Regions from separate parts of the Homo sapiens genome. Here region 2 is linked to region 1. Evidence: fine-mapped QTL for protein levels in blood plasma. Region 1 holds a variant in brackets. A gene starts in the other region. All regions are shown on their forward strands. Region 1 holds the start of SOD3 (superoxide dismutase 3). Region 2 holds the start of MST1 (macrophage stimulating 1).

Evidence for each region. PIP is the posterior inclusion probability: the model's chance that the variant is causal. The UK Biobank Pharma Proteomics Project read protein levels with antibody pairs (Olink). The fine-mapping took linkage between variants from a reference panel, not from the people measured, so its PIPs are less certain.
Region 2: it holds the start of MST1, and the variant in region 1 is fine-mapped to the plasma level of the MST1 protein (UK Biobank, PIP above 0.99).

The regions. Positions count from the first base shown.
Region 1 is chr4:24,794,564-24,803,865 of GRCh38, forward strand. SOD3 (superoxide dismutase 3) reads left to right here and starts at 1,010. Exons shown (of 2, transcript NM_003102.4): 1 at 1,010-1,088; 2 at 4,943-6,279. The coding sequence starts at 4,959. The coding sequence ends at 5,681. It overlaps CCDC149 (coiled-coil domain containing 149), which reads right to left. Exons shown (of 13, transcript NM_001395273.1): 13 at 8,951-9,302. RefSeq lists an enhancer at 5,162-5,662. The variant C/G (reference allele first, on the strand shown) is at 5,649.
Region 2 is chr3:49,684,326-49,693,627 of GRCh38, forward strand. It overlaps MST1 (macrophage stimulating 1), which reads right to left and starts at 5,149. Exons shown (of 18, transcript NM_020998.4): 1 at 4,273-5,149; 2 at 3,425-3,572; 3 at 3,231-3,343; 4 at 3,039-3,153; 5 at 2,824-2,960; 6 at 2,622-2,742; 7 at 2,359-2,477; 8 at 1,988-2,156; 9 at 1,737-1,867; 10 at 1,535-1,637; 11 at 1,271-1,407; 12 at 1,146-1,181; 13 at 937-1,057; 14 at 687-764; 3 more. The coding sequence starts at 4,366. It overlaps RNF123 (ring finger protein 123), which reads left to right and starts at 5,232. Exons shown (of 39, transcript NM_022064.5): 1 at 5,232-5,281; 2 at 6,805-6,922; 3 at 7,100-7,184. The coding sequence starts at 6,841. RefSeq lists enhancers at 1,559-2,272, 2,273-2,986, 4,503-5,062 and a silencer at 2,541-2,660.

The DNA of each region.
Region 1 (9,302 bases):
TCTCCGTCCCCAGAGTATGAACCCCCAAGGTGACTCATGCAGCTGTGGGTGCCCGGCATACAGCATGGTGACTGGAATGGATGAGCACCCAATAAACATTTGTTGCAGGAATGCAGGAGGACGGGCAGGCCAGCAAGCAGGCTGCCTGGTTTTTCCCACATGGGCTTTTCTGGGAAAGAAGAGCTTCTATTTTTGGAAAGGGCTGCTATGATTGAGAAAAGTTCATGGCAGCAAAAAAAGGACAGACGTCGGGAGGGAAACACTCCTAGTTCTCCCAGACAACACATTTTTTAAAAAGACTCCTTCATCTCTTTAATAATAACGGTAACGACAATGACAATGATGATTACTTATGAGTGCGGCTAGTGCCAGCCACTGTGTTGTCACTGGGCGAGTAATGATCTCATTGGATCTTCACGGTGGGCGTGCGGGGTGGACAGCCTCACACCCCCATTTTACAGATGATGAAAAGGAGGTGCAGGGAGTGGTGCAGCTGCTTCAGGCGTACACAGATAGGAAGTGACAAGGCTGGGACTCTGCAGCCTGAGTGTGTCATCACGACCCACCCGCTGCTCTGCTCTCATAGGTATGACAGCACAGCTCTGGAGCAAATGCCACGCACATTTGCAAGGTGCCCATTTCCATGCAGCAAAAATAAGTCAATAAGTTATTGACTTACAGAAAAGCAAAGGGCCTCTCAATAAAGAGGTCATTGTACACCTCTCCAAACAGGCGATTTTCTTTCTCATTTTTATTCCCCTGCTGTGTGCTGAAGGTCACTGGCTACAAGCCGGTGAAGTCGCGGAATGGAATCCTTGGCCCGAAAACCCAAAAATGGGAGGGGCAGAGGAGGTGGGGACAGAGCGGGAGGAGGTGGAGGCGAAGCAATTCTACAACCCGGGGAGGTCTGGCCTGCTTTTCCTCCCTGAACTGGCCCAATGACTGGCTCCCTCACGCTGACCACTCCTCTGGGCTGGCCTCCTGCACTCGCGCTAACAGCCCAGGCTCCAGGGACAGCCTGCGTTCCTGGGCTGGCTGGGTGCAGCTCTCTTTTCAGGAGAGAAAGCTCTCTTGGAGGAGCTGGAAAGGTGGGTGCTAAGTTGAGGTTCATTTTGTTCTTCTCGGAGTGTGCTTATTGAGTCTGAAGCTGGGTTGGGGCAACGGGCCTCTTCTTGGGAACAAATTGGATCATCTTCTTGGGAAGGAAATGTACTTTCCCTGGCTGCTCTGAGGGGTTAGTGGGGAGGTGGAGTGAGCGGGGAGGAAGGCAAGGAGGGGAGGAAGAAACCGTTCCTCCTGTGGATCTGCAAAGACCAGTCCAAGAGGATTTTAGTGTTAGGAAAAGGAATCTGGAGTGACGAGAAAGGGGGCCTTTCTAGATGTTGCATGGCTTTGGTGTCGGGAGCCACTTATGGGACAGCAGGTACTCTAAAAAGCCACCTCCTTAGGAAAGCAGAGAGGCCCTGGCCAGCTCAGGCTCCCAGCAAGAGCTCCTTCTAGGAGACAGCTGAGGGATGAAACACACCCAAGGCTCAAGAGGGGCAGGTTCTTCCCAGATACAGACCCAGGAAGGAGATAAAGGCTTGGTGCCTCTATTTGGTTCAGGATAAGGGCCCCTGTCCTCTTTCTCTGATAACACTGTCCTCTTTCTCTGATAACACCGTCCTCCCTTCCAGATCCACGTACAAAGGAGGCCCTTAAAAAGGCACTTGGTCATTCACAGCTCAAACTGAGCAAGAGGCTGTGGGAGAAGAATCAAGTTGGTCCCGAGGGGAAGAGGTGTCAAAGGCTTAAGAAACAAGAAGTCAGAGTTTACCTGGGTTTGAGGGAGAATTTTCTTTCCCCCTTTTCCTCCTCCTCCTCCTTCTTCTCTTTTTTTTTTTTTTTTTTTTTTTTTTGAGACATGGTCTCATTCTGTCACCCAGCACCCAGGCTGGAATGTAGTGGCACGATCACTATCACGGCTCACTACAGCCTCTACCTCCCGGGCTCAAGCGATCCTCCTACCTCAACCTCCTGAGTAACTGGGACTACAGGCACATGCCACCACACCCAGCTATTTTTTTTTTTTTTTTTTGCTAGAGATGGGGGTCTCTACCAGGTTGGTCTCATACTCTTGTACTCAAATGATTCTCCTGTCTCATCCTCCCAAAGGGGTGGGATTACAGGCATAAGCCACCATGCCTGGCTCTTCTTTTGGTTTCAGAGAAAAACATCTCCTTAAAATGTTTATTTCCCAAGGATTCTTGAAAAAGAAAGCTCACTGACACACCCAAAACAATCTGGTTTTGCTCTGTGCTTTTAGGGAGAACTTTCTAAGCAGCAGAGCCCTTCTGAGTGGCAGGGCTGTCTTAGGAGGAAGGTGTCTTTGATGATGGGGAACTTCATGTCCAGGTCTGGCAGGAGAGTTACCCCACTTTCCTGCCTACTCCCTGGGGCTTTGGGGTAGTAGTACCACATTGGGCCATGTCATTTAGGTGAGTCCTTCAACATCACTTTCTCTGCTTCTCCCTCTTTCTGGATCCTCCTTCTTGGAGCCTTTCAAGGGGACCTCCTCTCACAGTGTCCATAGCATCTCTTAGCTAATGGTCCTTAAAATCTCTACCAGCAGCTCTCTCTGATAGCTAAGAGCTGCCATTTACTGGGAACTTTCTATGTACTGGGCTCTGTGCTAAGTGCCCTAGATGAGAGATGTGCAGTGTGGTGCCTAAACCTTGGGCTTGGAGCAGACACACACTTTCAAATCCTGCCTTCAGCTCCTTAGTGAACATGTCACCTTGGGCGGGACACACGCCTCTCTGTGCCTCAGTTTCCTACACTTTAGAATGGGGATAACACTGAATAATGTTCTTGTGAGGATGCAGGGAATTAACCCACGCACAGTACTTATAATAGTGTCTGGCGCCTGTGTTCGATAAGTTTTAGCAATTCTAATCATCTCTTTTAAGCCTCGCAGCAAGCCTCTAAGGTAAGTCTGTATTAGTATCCCTATTTACAGATGAGAAAACTGAGGTTCACAGGGGATGAGACAGTGTACAGTCTGCAGTCCAGCAATTACTCTGCTACTCAGCAATAAAAATAGTAACAGCTAACCCTTAGACTAAGTGGCAGAGTCAGGCTTTAGATTCATGAGGTGAGTTCTGGAATCCATCCCTTTAATAACCACACTAAATTGCCTTTCTGAAATGGTTATATAAAGCATATCTACCCAATCTTGGAGTTTTTTAAATGGCACCTAGTTTGGTGCTGGAAATGCAGTTGACCTTCAAAGCAATTCTTTGGAGGCAGCATCAATCCCTCTGGAAATACCTCGGTGGCATGGCTGGCCTTATTCTACAGGTAAGGAACTTGAAGCTAAGCATCAGTAACCCCGTGAAGTCACAGTTAGTATAGGTTGGAATTGGGATTCAAATCTGTACCTGACTTTATAATTCCTAGCTGGGCCCCAGAATCTTTGATAGAGGTGTCTTCTTTCTTTTCTTTTCTTTCTTTCCTCTTTCTTTCCCTTCCTTCCTCTCTCTCTGTCTTTCTTCTCTCCTTTCTTTCTCACAGAATCAAAATCTCTTGGGGTGGGGCCTGGGCATCTGATTTTTAAAAACCAGACATCTGATGTGCAGTCAACACTGAGAACCCCTGCCAGCTTCATCTCCTCTTCTAAGTGCCAGACCCAAGTTTCCGACTGTCTGCCCACCTGTCTTCCCACCTGGGCACCCGCCAGCGTCTCACCCTCAGGAGACTCCAGCTGAACTAATCCTCTCTCCCTGCTTTTCCAGAACAGGTCCCACCCTCCCTCCACTCAGTCTCTCCTGCTGGGAACCCTGGTCATCTGCACTGTGCCTTCATCTTCCATCCTGCCAGTGCTGCCCGGTGTGTCTCTTAAACCCATGCCTCCTCTGTGTGCACCACCTGCACTTTGGTAAAAGCCTTCATTTCCTGCTTGGGTTACTACAACGCCCCCTAACTCATCTCACTGTCTCTATTTCTGCTTCTCTGTCTCTCCCTAGGCTACTCCCATTCTTCCTCCCCTTTCCTCTTCATCCCAAAGTCCAACCCATATCCTTTTACCAGTAGGACTTAAGGAACTAAAGACTATCTCATCACCCACTTTTCTTCTTAAAAACTTCCACTGCACTGCCTGCTGAGATGGCCTTCCTACCCAACTTGGCTGGAAAACTCCTACCCATCTTGTGGAACCCAGTTCAAAAGTCACCACCTCTGAGAAGCCTTCCCTGAGGCTCCTAGGGAGATGGGTACTGCCTCCTCTGTCCTTCTCCAGCACAGGCCCCATCTTCAATCACAGGATTGTGCTGGAATGATTGGATGCCAAGTCTGTCCCTCACTGAACTCCTTATGCAAAATCCATATTATATGTTTCCTTTTGCCAGGTGTGGGCCCAGGTGCTGGGGATACCGATGAATAAAACTGAGTTTCTGTCTTCAAGAAGCTCCAAGTCTACTGAGTGTAGCAGAGAACAGGGAGAAGGCACTTCAGGGAGAAGGCGTAGCACATGCAAAGCCCCAGAAGGCAGGGACAGAAGCCTTAGGGATGTCTGTGGGGGAGGATGGAGGAAGAGGGTAACAGGAGACCAGGTGGGGAGATGAGGGAGGTGGTCTGGAAGGGCCATGAGACACCCCTCACGCTCCCTGAGACCCCCTCCACGCTATAGAGATGGGACTGGAGAGGACGATGATCATTTGTGACTCAGATCCCTGTGGGTTTCTTCAGATTGGGTCTCACCCATCTTTACAGCCACAGCACCTAACACAGTGCCCGGCACACAGCAGGCCCTAGACAAACGTTTGCCACATGAAGTCATGCCCACTGGGCCAGGAAGCCCACTGGGGACTGGGGGGTTGGTTCTGCGATAATGGGGTCCCTGAGATTCTATGTTTCACGTGACTAAGCCTCACTCTGCCCCCACCTCCGCGGGGGCGTCCCGCAGGTGCCCGACTCCAGCCATGCTGGCGCTACTGTGTTCCTGCCTGCTCCTGGCAGCCGGTGCCTCGGACGCCTGGACGGGCGAGGACTCGGCGGAGCCCAACTCTGACTCGGCGGAGTGGATCCGAGACATGTACGCCAAGGTCACGGAGATCTGGCAGGAGGTCATGCAGCGGCGGGACGACGACGGCGCGCTCCACGCCGCCTGCCAGGTGCAGCCGTCGGCCACGCTGGACGCCGCGCAGCCCCGGGTGACCGGCGTCGTCCTCTTCCGGCAGCTTGCGCCCCGCGCCAAGCTCGACGCCTTCTTCGCCCTGGAGGGCTTCCCGACCGAGCCGAACAGCTCCAGCCGCGCCATCCACGTGCACCAGTTCGGGGACCTGAGCCAGGGCTGCGAGTCCACCGGGCCCCACTACAACCCGCTGGCCGTGCCGCACCCGCAGCACCCGGGCGACTTCGGCAACTTCGCGGTCCGCGACGGCAGCCTCTGGAGGTACCGCGCCGGCCTGGCCGCCTCGCTCGCGGGCCCGCACTCCATCGTGGGCCGGGCCGTGGTCGTCCACGCTGGCGAGGACGACCTGGGCCGCGGCGGCAACCAGGCCAGCGTGGAGAACGGGAACGCGGGCCGGCGGCTGGCCTGCTGCGTGGTGGGCGTGTGCGGGCCCGGGCTCTGGGAGCGCCAGGCGCGGGAGCACTCAGAGCGCAAGAAG[C/G]GGCGGCGCGAGAGCGAGTGCAAGGCCGCCTGAGCGCGGCCCCCACCCGGCGGCGGCCAGGGACCCCCGAGGCCCCCCTCTGCCTTTGAGCTTCTCCTCTGCTCCAACAGACACCCTCCACTCTGAGGTCTCACCTTCGCCTTTGCTGAAGTCTCCCCGCAGCCCTCTCCACCCAGAGGTCTCCCTATACCGAGACCCACCATCCTTCCATCCTGAGGACCGCCCCAACCCTCGGAGCCCCCCACTCAGTAGGTCTGAAGGCCTCCATTTGTACCGAAACACCCCGCTCACGCTGACAGCCTCCTAGGCTCCCTGAGGTACCTTTCCACCCAGACCCTCCTTCCCCACCCCATAAGCCCTGAGACTCCCGCCTTTGACCTGACGATCTTCCCCCTTCCCGCCTTCAGGTTCCTCCTAGGCGCTCAGAGGCCGCTCTGGGGGGTTGCCTCGAGTCCCCCCACCCCTCCCCACCCACCACCGCTCCCGCGGGAAGCCAGCCCGTGCAACGGAAGCCAGGCCAACTGCCCCGCGTCTTCAGCTGTTTCGCATCCACCGCCACCCCACTGAGAGCTGCTCCTTTGGGGGAATGTTTGGCAACCTTTGTGTTACAGATTAAAAATTCAGCAATTCAGTACTGCGTCGAGGTCTTGGTTACTTTTTTGTTTGTTTGTTTTAGGCTTCTCTCCCAAGCTGAGCTTTTTTTTGTTTTGTTTTCGTTTTCCTTTTTTTTCTTTTTTTTGGGAGTGGCAAACATGCTTCCCAAATCCCTACAGGACTTCTCCTTATCCTCTGCCCCCACCTCCCTAACCCTGCTGGCAACAACGTTCAGCCACTGCTTGTCTTGCCCTTCAGTGTGGCTCCAAGAGGAAGATCACCAGAATCACTCAGGGAAGTTAAAAAAAAAAAATACAGCTTCCTGGGCTACATCCCAGAGCTGTGGAATCCAAAGGGAGAAGAGAAAGTGAATTTGCGACAAGCGTCGGGATGATTCTGGCACTGGACCCTCTGGCCTGAGAGGGGAAGAGGCCTTCCATCTCACCTGGGCTGGTAGCTTGTCACATCTGCCTCCGAGTACAGCCTTAGGTCCATTTCCCAGATATCAGAGACAGTGCCAGGGAAGCCAGGTGACTGCATCTTGCCTAGGCACAGAAGAGTAGGGTTGGAATGTGACGTTGTTAGCATTTGGCAGGACCAAAACCAGAGGCAAACGGAGGCAGTGGGATGGAAAGGCAGTTGATTTTGATGAAGGCTTGTTGGGAGTTCAGCTTTCTTTTGAAACTTATAATCTATACCCAGGCTAGAACAGTCTTGTGTATACACCTTCATTCATGGAATAAACGTACTTGCAATAACTTTTTAGCCTCCCAGGGTAGCCTCACTTCCTAGCTGTGACTTTTCCACCCTGGTTACTGGGAGGCAGCTTCCATTTCTCCCAGACTAGCTAGGCAGTGCGTCCAACTGAACCGCAGCCAGAAACCTGTCTCCAGGGGTTATTTTTACCTCTAACTAGGACTAACTTATTTTAAAATCTTTCCTTGAGCCCAAGTGACAACTGAAGAGAAAGGCTATTGCCTGGTGATTTTGCTCCACCAGTTGGTTCTCACTGGTTTGAATACTAACTTGAACTGTACTCATCGACACTGAAAGGGGATGAGCAAACAGTGTCTCTAAATCTCCTGATCCTGATCTCAAATATCCCCCTAATTACAAGTTGCAACAAGGCAGCTATTACACGGGGACACAGGATGGAGAGGATGGGTGCCAAACACCCATCGTCTACTCTGCTGCCTCGGTTATGGTGAATTCAGGACCATCAAGGGAGGTGTGGACCTTTTTTTTCAGAAGGAGGCTGACACTTCTTGTCAATTGCATTGTGTTCTTAGTTTTGCTCTTCACAACCCTTGACCCCGTAGATGGGGGCTGAAGAGGCACCCTGGCCGACTCACTCTATTTCTGTTTTGGGAATGGGATGGATAAACTATCCCATGGGCCTCCAGAGCCAAAAAACCAAAACGAAACAAAACAAAAAACCCCAAAACAAAAAAGCAAAAAGCAAACAAGAAAAAAAAAAAAAGAGGAAATAATAGGCAGACAATTTACAGTTCATTGTAAGGGCAAAGATATGCATATAGCATGATGGTTAACAGGTCAGACTCAGGTAGAAAGGCCCATTTGAACCCCAGCTCTGCCACACTCAGAAACTGTGTGACCCGAACAAGTCACTTAACCTCTCTGAGCATAGGTAAAATAAGATCATCATACCAGATTGTTTTGAAGATTAAATCAAGTGTTATTCACGAGAGGTGCACAGCATAGCATGCACAACAAATAAGGACCTGGTAAGTATCTAATTAATAACAATGGCTAAGATCCAAAAAACAGCTACCTACTAATAAATAGATGGAGCTGCCTTGTAAGGCAGTGAGCATCATGCAACCAGGATTCAAATGAAGGACAGTTGCTACCTCTGAGGTTCCCGAGAAGGATTTCTGCATCCATTGAGAGACTGAATGACATGAACTCTGCGATCCCATCTCTTGTGGGGAGGGAACCTAGAATGAAGGGAAGATTGTGGGCCATAAAGGCAGACATCTGGTTCCTGGCACAGAACCATATGTGTGCCACCAAAGCCACCCACCGGACCCCACTTGGCCCCTGGAGTCTATTTTTACTCCTCTCATCTTACAGATCTATTTTGTTAATCTCCTTATATTTGCTGTTTTGACTTCCCAGCCAGCTTGCTAATCAGTTTGCCTATTTGACTCACAGGGTTTGCATTTGTCACGGGGACTGAAACACACGCTTGTTTTGATTTCTTTTTGTAAAATTAGAAGCGTTTGATGTAATGACTCTACCTAGACACAGCTGGTAAAGTGAGAATAATGCTCAAGTTTGCACAGTTTAAACACAATGTAGACAATAATTAGAAATGCTATCTTTAGATGTTTAGGATAAGCTTTTTCTCAGAATTGCACTGATTTTTTTTTTCTGAGTGGGGCTTTTTAGTGCATATATACAGAAATACTAAAAACGTAAGAAAATAGAGCAAATCAGTGAGTGCTTTGGTCAACTTGAAAGACTGCAGGAAATAAACCAACTGATTTTAGATCTGCCTTTTTTTGACTGAATGCATAAAATCTTTACATTCTCCATATTTTTCATGACTACCATATGATCAAATAGTTTTAGGTGACAGATTGCAACTGATAAGTTGCTGCAATATGGCAGAAGTCATGCTCAGCCTCCGCTTGCCCGGTGGTGAGGGTGGAATATGAAGCAAACAATAAAGATAATTCATCATCTCTATCAGGAAAATTGCCACATGTTTATTTCAGGTAACAAAAAAGATATAGTTATGATATACAATGACCATAGAATCCAATAAAGCAACTTCTGCAAATGAATAGAAGGTACTTTTTCTTTAAATGAAACTACAAAATAGCAGCTGGTTTTAAAAACAAAGCCAATTGTTTTAGATTTAATAGGCTACCACTGGCCTCTGCTAAGATCCCCAAATATATTCCTGAGCTCACATAGATTCCAGAAAGTCAAACTTTTCAATATTATGCAAACTTTCCCTATGCATCCAAAAAATTCTCATTTAGTAAAGAGGTGATATGAAATGTAAGGCAGCATGTCCATATCTATCATTTT
Region 2 (9,302 bases), not on the chromosome of region 1:
CACAGGGGCCAACAGTCCCTCAGTGCACATCTCACTCTCCCGCACACGTCCTCGGTGCTTGATGTTACACTCCTGGTTGGAGATGACATTCAGCAAGGCCACATTTAGGACTGTGTCATTACCCGTACCTGCAGTGAGGGGAATGGGGAGAGGGAGAGGGTCCTGCAGGAAGATCCAGGGCTGGGCCTCCTGGCCACCAGCAGTCCTGTGCACTGTGCTCTTACCTTTGGTCTCACCCCAGCCTGCAATCTCACACTTGGTCCCTGGAGGCACCACATACCATTCAGGGGGCAGGCAGATCAGGGCCACACGCTGGTTCAGGGTCACAGATCTTTAGCAAGAATGGGGGCACTCAGGGTCTGAGGCCACAAGGCCCAGCCCCACCTCACACCCTCCCAGGTTGTCCACATACCTCTCCAGCTTGAGCAGGACAAGCTGGGAGCCTGAGGGCCCACACACCATCTTGGCTACTGGGACCCGCTGTAGGCTTGGCTCTCCATGCTGTGGGTTCTGGAACAGGGTGCCCAACCATACCTCATAGCCCGTGAGAGGCATATGGCTGGGAGAGAAGCTCTGCTAGGTCATTTGTGACTCTCAGTCCATTGCCCCAAGGCTCACTTGTTAGCTTGCCTGGGGAAGGGGGAAGGTGGGATGAGACTGGGTCCCCAAACACAAGGGAGGCTCACCAGGAGGAGAAGCACTGCCGGGCAGTCAGTATCCACTGCTCCTTCACTAGAGACCCCCCGCAGAAATGCTGGCCCTGCCTAGAGGAGTGGGGAATTAGGACAGGTAACAGACTCCTGGGACAGATGCTAGACCTGCCATCTTCTGGCTAGGACCTCTGGGGGCAGGGATAGATTCCCAGCCCCCAGTGGGATAACCACAGAGGACACAACCTCAGCTCCTCTCTGTGGGAGACAGGCAGTTGTGCCTCACCGATTCCGCAAGCTGACTGTCCAGGGTGAGTTGCCCGGATGGCCCCCAACCACGCGCAGCTTGGAACGCCGCTGATCCAGCCGATCCACCCTCTTGCCACACTTCTCAAACTGCACCTGGTCTGTAGGATGGGGTGGGCTGGATGAAACCCAGACTGTGTGGATGTCGTGGGCTAAAGGGCCTGACCCATAACTGGCCCAACTCCTAACCTGGGGGGTCCAGGATTGATGGCGGCTGGTCATCAGCTGAAAGACAAAGTTCACTGGGGTTAAGGGAGCCAGCCTTTGGGTGGGGGCTGAGGCAGGGTCATGGGGGAAGCGTCACTAGTGCTCACCGCAGCGTCGCAGGGCACAGTAGTCGAATGGGGTCCTTGGGTCCATCGTGTAGCACCAGGGCCCATGGCTATCCCCATCTGGGTTCCGGCAGAAGTTCTCCTCCAGTTGTGCATGCGGTTCGGAGGTAAACGTGAACCTAGGCGGAAGCGGGAGCAAAATCGTGGCAGGGTAGTCTCAACCATTTCCAGGCTCTGGTCCCAGACACCAAAGCATGCCGCCCCAGGGTTAGGGCCCTGGCGGGGCCGGGAGCACCAGGGACTCACTGCGGCTTGTGCGGCGTCTCAGCGGACCAGCGCTGGCACTGGACACCCTTGCGGGTCTTGCTGACCGTGCCGCGGTACTGCTCCCCTGCGCCGTGGTAGCAGTCTGTGGCGGGTGCGGGCAGCCATCAGGCCGAGACCTCGCCCCGGCCCTCCGGTTCCAGGCTTCCAGCCCGGCTCTGTAGCCCCCAAGCTTGGGCCTCACCCTGGGGCCGCACGTCGTCTGTACAACGCCGGATCTGGTAGCAAAAGGCCGCGCGCATGCCGGGCCGCAGTGTGAAGCACCAGGGCGCCTCTGAGCCGTCGGGGTTCCGGCAGAAGTTCTCCCGAAGGTCTCTAAGCAGGCGCTCCACTCAGCCCTAGCCCGCCAGCCTCCAGCCTTGAGCCCGTGACTACCTTCCTCCCGTCTCACCCGCAGCAGCACGTCCCAACGCCCGCCCCCCCCCCCCACCTCACTTGCACGCGTATTTTTCTGGCGTAAATCGGTGCTGATGCGGGATTTGCGCGTCCCAACGCTGGCAAGGTACGCCCGCAGTGGTGGTATTGGCTGTGCCCCGGTAGCCCTCACCCTTCCCGCGGAAGCAGCTGACAGTTGTGGCCTCTTGGCGGGGCTGTGCCTCGGACCCTTAGATGGACCGAGATAGGTCGGGCCCCGAGCGAGAGCTGAGATCCCTCTGGGGCTGGGACCAAACCCGCCTTTCCCAGGTGTACGGTACTCCACGGGGTATGCTCTCAGGTCACGCCCAGCCCCTCTTACCTCCCCGGCCAAGCCACGCCCCTCCCCAAGGTTCCCAGGTACCCTCCCAGGCCTGGTCCCCGCCGCCTACCGCAGCGGGGGAGGTCACAGAACTCTCGCTCGATCTGCGGATCCGTAGTGTAGCACCATGGCCGCTCGGAGCCGTCAGGATTCCGGCAATAGTTGTCGTCCAGACCTTGGTCGAGGAACCTGGGGGCGGTAATGGGGCGTGAACAAGACCCTGGGACTCTGGCTTATCTGGCCCCGCCCAATTGCCCTACACGGAGCCCTGCCCCTGGAGTCCTGGACCTTCCCTAGCCCGGCCCCCAGGACGCCGATACCGCCTACGCGTACTTGCCCGGCTCGAAGGGGTGCTGGTGCGGGTGCTGAAGATCCCAGCGCTGGCACTCGCGCCCTGACTCCGTGCGGTCTACCGCGCCGCGGTATTCCTCGCCATTGCACCAGACACACGCGGCTGGAGACAAAGAGCCAGTGGGTTCGTGGATGGACGTGGGCTTGTCCCTCCACTCTCCCAGCTTGACCCGGCGCCGCTTACCCTCCCGGCAGGATTTGATGCCGCAGCTCTGGAAGCGCACAGCAGGGTCTGTTGTGTAGCACCAAGGACCTCCGGGGTCGCCATCAGGGTTACGGCAGAAGTTCTCTTCCAGGCCATTCCGGAGAGTGGGCGTGTACCTGAGGGCCCAGAGCATCACTATAGTGTGTGCTGGGGGAAGGCCCCAGGCCGGGACGGAGGGAAGGTGTTTGTCTCACTTGTGATCATTTGGGAACTTGTGGCTCCAAGCCTGGCAGGGCAGGCCACCCACGGTCGTGGCCATGGTGCCCCGGTACCCAACCCCATTGTTCATGATGCAGGTCCGTACGTAGTCTGGGAGCAAGAGACAGAAGATCAACTTGGGCTGAGGTCCCCTGTCTCCCACCCTGCCCCTCTCCACCCCCACTTGCCTTTCTTCTGGAAGAGGTCACAGCGCCCAGAACGCCGCAGCCTCGTGTGGGGCGAGTGTTGAGTCCATGGCAGCAGTTGGCAACCATGGCTGCTCACGTTGTAGTGGAAGGCCCTGGAGAGAAGAAGGCACAGGGTAACGCCACAGCCCAGGCTTCCCTGCCCCCAGTCTTATCTAGGCCCAGTGGCCACTCACCGGCAGTCCATTAAGGGCCCACAGCGACCAGCACACTCTTCAGCATCTGCCACATCCTCCTGCCAAGGCCCGGGCACCACCGCATGTAGCAGGTGCTGTAGCTCTGTGCCCCGGAGCACTTGGAAGTCATTCAATGGCGAGCGCTGCCCTGCAGAGTAGGCATGAGTGGGTGCAGGTCAGGTGGGCATACATGTCAGTAATGTGTATTGGCATGTCCACACTTTGTTCATTCAGGGGATCAAAGCTACAAGGCTTCTGGGATGGACCCTGTATGCACTTTCAAGGGCCAGTCTAGCCCCCTGCACAGATACTTGTGAAAAAAATTTCCCCTGGGAAGCAGGCCCAGACTTGGTAGTTATCACCGGTGCCTCTGTTTAGTGGCCCAGGCACCGGGCTCAGATCTAACACATACGCTCTGTGAGAGCAGTGGGTGATGAAGCTTGCCCCACCTCATCTCTCAAATGAGAATGCTAAGGCTCAGAGCCATCACATTACCCAGCCAGGGGCCCTGGCTAGGCATTCAGACTCCAAATCTGGGCTCTCACCTGCACAAAGGCATATGCTAGGTTAGAGGGGTAGATCAGGCTCAGGAGGGGTCACTGCCTGCTGTGTGCGTGCATCTGTGTGGTCCTGACACTGCTTCAGTGCTAGAGCAGACGTGCTAATAGAGGCCTAAGTGGGCAATGTCTATGTGTTCCTAGGGCTTCCCAGCTGTGCTCAAGAGGGCAAGGTCACTGCCCCATGCCCACTGAGCCTCTGGCTCCCCGACTTTTTTCTCATCCTAGAATAGGAGAATGGGGCCAACCCCCTCCTGAAGGCAGATGGGGATCAGGGTTGGGGGCACTTACCAGGGACCCCTAAGCATTGAGTCAGAAGCAGCAGGAGTGGGAGCCACCCCATCCTTCTGGCTGGAGGCTGCACTGTGACCCACCACAGCCCCATCCGGGAAGTTGTGAAACCTGTCCCTACGGGATTGGGTGGCTCTGGCTCCACACGTCAGCTCAGGGCCTGCTGGACCCTGACCTGAGACCTGGTGACAGGAGCCATGAGGGGCCAGGCCTCAGGTCCCATAGGTCAGTTGCAAGGGCCTAGTACAGCTTAGTGGACAGGTGTTAGGAAGGTTTGGTGGGGACACTTGAGGTGCCCTGGGGTTGGGGTGAAACCCCTCTGCAGCCTAGTCAGCCCAAGGGCATTGTGAAAGTGAGAGCTGCCAGAGGTCTGGGCTCCAGCCCCTGGGTGACATTAAACTTTTCTGAATTTCGGTTTTTCCCTGTAAATTGGGGAAAATTACTTGCCCCAGCTTCAACACTGCCTCCCCTCCACCCTTTTGCTGCTGCCTTATCAGGCCCCAGCTGTAGGCAGGTCAGCCCACACCCGGCGGCAGAGCCCAGAGAGGCTCGCTCATCTCAGCCGCCAGAAGTGTCATCCCAGGGAAGGTGAGCGAGGCTGTCCACTAGGACTAAATAGGGGTGGAGGTAACAGGTAGCAGGGACTCTGGCAGGAACGGCCTTTCAGACGTTTTAAGGACCGTCTGAGCGGGGCCTCTAAGTATGGGTAGGAGACAGGCGGCCTAGGGATTCCGGTTAGCATGTCGCGTTCTGCCGCAGCAGGGCTGGGAGCATCCCCAGAGCAGGCGGAGGTCGGAGGTGGTGAGGCCTTTCGGCGAAGCTGAGGCCTGGAACAACCCGGTGGGAAGCCATGGAGGGGGTCCCCTAGCGGAGGCTGGGCGCGGGCCAGTGCGCGTGCGCGGCTGGAGGCTCAGCGCGCAAGCGTGCGCGTGATTTGGCCCTGAACGGACGCCGTAGCCAAGAGGTTGGGCGGATGTTGTGAGCCGGGTCGCTGCGGCCGAGGCTCCGGGTGAGTGAGGGGCGGCAGGGCTCTGAGCCTGGCGGGTTCCGGCTATTCCCTTCGCGGTCCGGGCTAGTCCAGTGCGAGGGCACCTGCAGCGCAGGGATCTGGGTGCGAAACTCCGAGCGGAAGCTGGTCTGGCAGGTCCTGTGGAGCTTGGGGCCAGGCGGGGGCGACTTGGGGGAGCCATGCGCCGCCCTCGCCGTCCTTGGGCTCCCAGACGGAGTAGGTTCAGTTCTGAGTCCGGATACCCCGGCGGGGTTGGACGGGATAGCCGTGACAGGGAGTCCCCGGGCGGGGACAAGGTCCGCCTCTCACCTGGGTCCTCAGCAACTGACTCCCGGAGCCCACTCCGGGTGTCTGGAAGGTCTGCTCATCAAATGAATGACTGAGTTTAATCAGATCTTCAACTACTCTGGTAGTGAAGGGGCACCGATCATGGACGCCCACCGAGGGCCCGAGGTCGGGAAAATCACCTTCCCGAGGAGCAGGCGTGGTGCAGACCCACAAGGGTTTGTGGCGGGAGTAGAGGGTCTGTTTGGGGTGAGATAAGAGACTGAACTGCAGAGTAGGGAGTGCTGGCTAAGGCAGTGCTGCAGAGCGAAACTCTAGACCTGCGCTGTCTAATAGAACTTTATATGATGGTGGGAACGTTCTACCTTTGTGCTGTCCAACAGAGTAACCATTAGCCACATGTGGTCATTGAACTCTTGAAATGTGGCTAAGGCAACTGAGAAATCGAATTGTTAATTTTTAAAACTTTAAATTTAAGTAACCTCATGTGGATGACGGCTGCTGTGTTGGACAGCACCGCTACACATCAGTGAGGCCAGCACCAGGGACTCAGTGCAGGTTCTGGAGCAGCTGCAGCAGCAACATGATGTGAGGGATAGATGCACTAGGAGGACCAATGGAGTTTGCCATGAGGGCTGGGCAAGGGTGGTGCTTGGATGAGGTGGGAGGCCACATGTGTGAGTGGGAATGGTGAAACTATCAGGACCATGGATAAAAGAAGGGAGGAACCCAGGGCTGAGGAAAGAGGCTCCAGCCTTGTGGGGAGTAAGTGGGACTTATGGCTAGAGATGACCAGACCAGTGGTGGTCTGCACTTGGGGGAATGTGTAGGATTGTCGCTTCTGGTTGTGAGCTGGACTCAGTATGGCTTACAACTGAGATGGATACAGGGGCTCTGCCCCTAGGACACCTCACTTTGGACATTTTGGTCTGATTTCCACAGAGCTGAGACATTTTGTTATGGTTCGGCAAAAATATATCTAGTACCTGCTCTCTGCCCAGCCCTGTGCTGGGCACAGGGACACTGGAGAACAAGAAGTGGTCCCTGTTACATGGGCCTAGACCCTGGCTACCCTCCCTGTGTAGGAAGCTGGGAGCCCCTGCATTCCCCTGCCCTATGTGTTAGTGTGCATGCCCCTGGCCTCACCTGCTCCCAAGCCTTCCTGCCATGGCAGGACTGAGGTCAGGTGTGGGGGCCCCTGGCTGGCCCTGAGTAGACAGGCTCTGTGTCTGGCTCAGCCCCCAGGACCACTGGCTGCCCATGAGAGATGAAGGATGGCATCCAAGGGGGCCGGCATGTCTTTCTCCCGCAAGAGCTATAGGCTGACCTCAGATGCTGAGAAATCCAGGGTCACAGGTAAGAGCTGGCAGGGAAGGAAGGAGGCTCCTCTTGTTGGGAGGAGAAGGAAGGGACAAAGGCCTCAGGCCTTGCTGCACCTGTGGCTGGCCTAGGACCAGAAGTCTCTGGGGCCAGCAGGGGCCAGGAGCTGCACTGATCATGTGGCCCTTTTCTCCCTTCTGACTTGTGGCTCAGGCATTGTGCAGGAGAAGCTGCTGAATGACTACCTGAACCGCATCTTTTCCTCTTCTGAACATGCACCCCCAGCAGCCACCAGCAGGTATGGCTGGGTGGGTGGCCCCTCCTCACTCTGCTGGGCCAGACCAGAATAAGGAGGCTGCAGTTGTAGGGAAAGGGAGCCTGGGCTCTGGACAGATAGGCTTAGGCTCTGTTCTCACTGTGCTCCTGGCTGCGAGATCTCTGGCCAGAGAGTCTGCCTTCCGTACTCTGCTTCTTCCTGTCTCCAGGCAGTGCTAGTTCCTTCTGAGAGTCAGGGAGCAGAGGTCAGGGAGCGGGTGCACATTCATGCCCAGCTAGCACCTGGCACCTACTCCATACCCAGCATCTGCCCCTGCATGTACCTGCCCTCACCTTGGCCCCAGCCTGGCCCCTTGTAGCTTCTGACTGACCTTGTAAAGAACAAACTCCTCCAGGGCCTTTTCTTTACAAGTTTAATACTTTTAAGTGTAGTCAGTATAAAAGTTACAAGTACATTTTAGCAGAAACTTAGAGGGCCAGGCACAGTGGTTCACACCTGTAATCCCAGCACTTTGGGAGGCCAAGGTGGGTAGATTGCTTGAGTCCAGGAGTTCAAGACCAGCCTGAGCAACATGGCAAGACCCCATCTCTACAATAAAATACAGAAATTACCTGGGCATGGTGGTGTGCACCTGTAGTCCCAGCTGTTAGGGAGGCTGATGTGGGAGGATCACTTGAGCCTAGGAGGTTGAGGCTGCAGTGAGTTGGCCTCTGCATGCCACTGCACTGTAGCCTGGGTGACAGAGCAAGACCCTGTCTCTAAAAAAAGAAGGAAAAGCACCTGCTATCTTGTTATTTTAACATGACTATTCAAATGTGATTCTTTTCTGTTTCTTTCTTTGTGTTACATTTTTAATTTTTAATTTTTGTGGGTATGTAGTAGGTATATATATTTATAGGGTACATGAGATACTTTGATACAGGCATGCAATGCGTAATAATCACATCATGGTAAATGGGGTATCCATCCCCTCAAGCATTTATCTTTTGTCTTATAAACAATCTAGTTATACTCTTTTAGTTATTTTTAAATGTACAATTATTATTTACTATAGTCACTCTGTTCTGCTACCAGATAGGTCTCATTAATTCAATTTTTTTGTACGCATTAGCCATCCCCATCTCCCCACAAGCCCTATACTACCCTTCCAAGCCTCTGGTAACCATCCAGTACTTTGCCTCTATGAGTTCAATTGTTTTAATTTTTAGCTGTCACAAATAAGTGATAACATGCAATGTTTGTCTTTTTCTGCCTGGCTTATTTCATTTAACATAATGACCTCCAGTTCCATCCATGTTGTTGCATATTACAGGATCTCATTCTTTTTTATGGCCGAATAGTACTCCGTTGTGTATATGTACCATGTTTTCTTTATTTATTCATCTGTTGATGGACACTTAGATTGCTTCCAAATCTTGGCTATTGTGAACAGTGCTGCAACAAACATGGGAATGCAGATATCTCTTTGATATACTGATTTCCCTTCTTTCAGGTATATACCCAGCAGTGGGGTTGCTGGATCATATGGTAGCTCAATTTTTAGTTTAGTTTTTTTTTTTTTGAAAAATTTTTTTTTTTGAGACGGAGTCTTGCTCTGTTGCCCAGGCTGGAGTGCAGGGGCACAATCTCAGCTCACTGCAAGCTCCGCCTCCCAGGTTCATGCCATTCTTCTGCCTCAGCCTCCCAAGTAGCTGGGACTGCAGGTGCCCGCCACCATGCCCAGCTAATTTTTTGCATTTTTAGTAGAGACGGGGTTTCACCGTGTTAGCCAGGATGGTCTTGATCTCCTGAGCTCGTGATCCGCCCACCTCGGCCTCCCAAAGTGCTGGGATTACAGGCGTGAGCCAGTGTGCCTGGCCTTTTTTTTTTTTTTTTTTTTTTTTTTGAGATGGAGTTTTGCTCTTGTTGCCCAGCCTGGAGTGCAGTGGCATGATCTTGGCTCACTGCAACCTCTGCCTCCCAAGTTCTAGTAATTCTCCTGCCTCAGCCTCCCGAGTAGCTGGGATTACAGGCACAAACCACCACACCCAGTTAATTTTGGTATTTTTAGTAGAGATGGGGTTTCGCCATGTTGGCCAGGCTGGTCTCGAACTCCTAGCCTCAGGTGATCCTCCCACCTCGACGTCCCAAAGTGCTGAG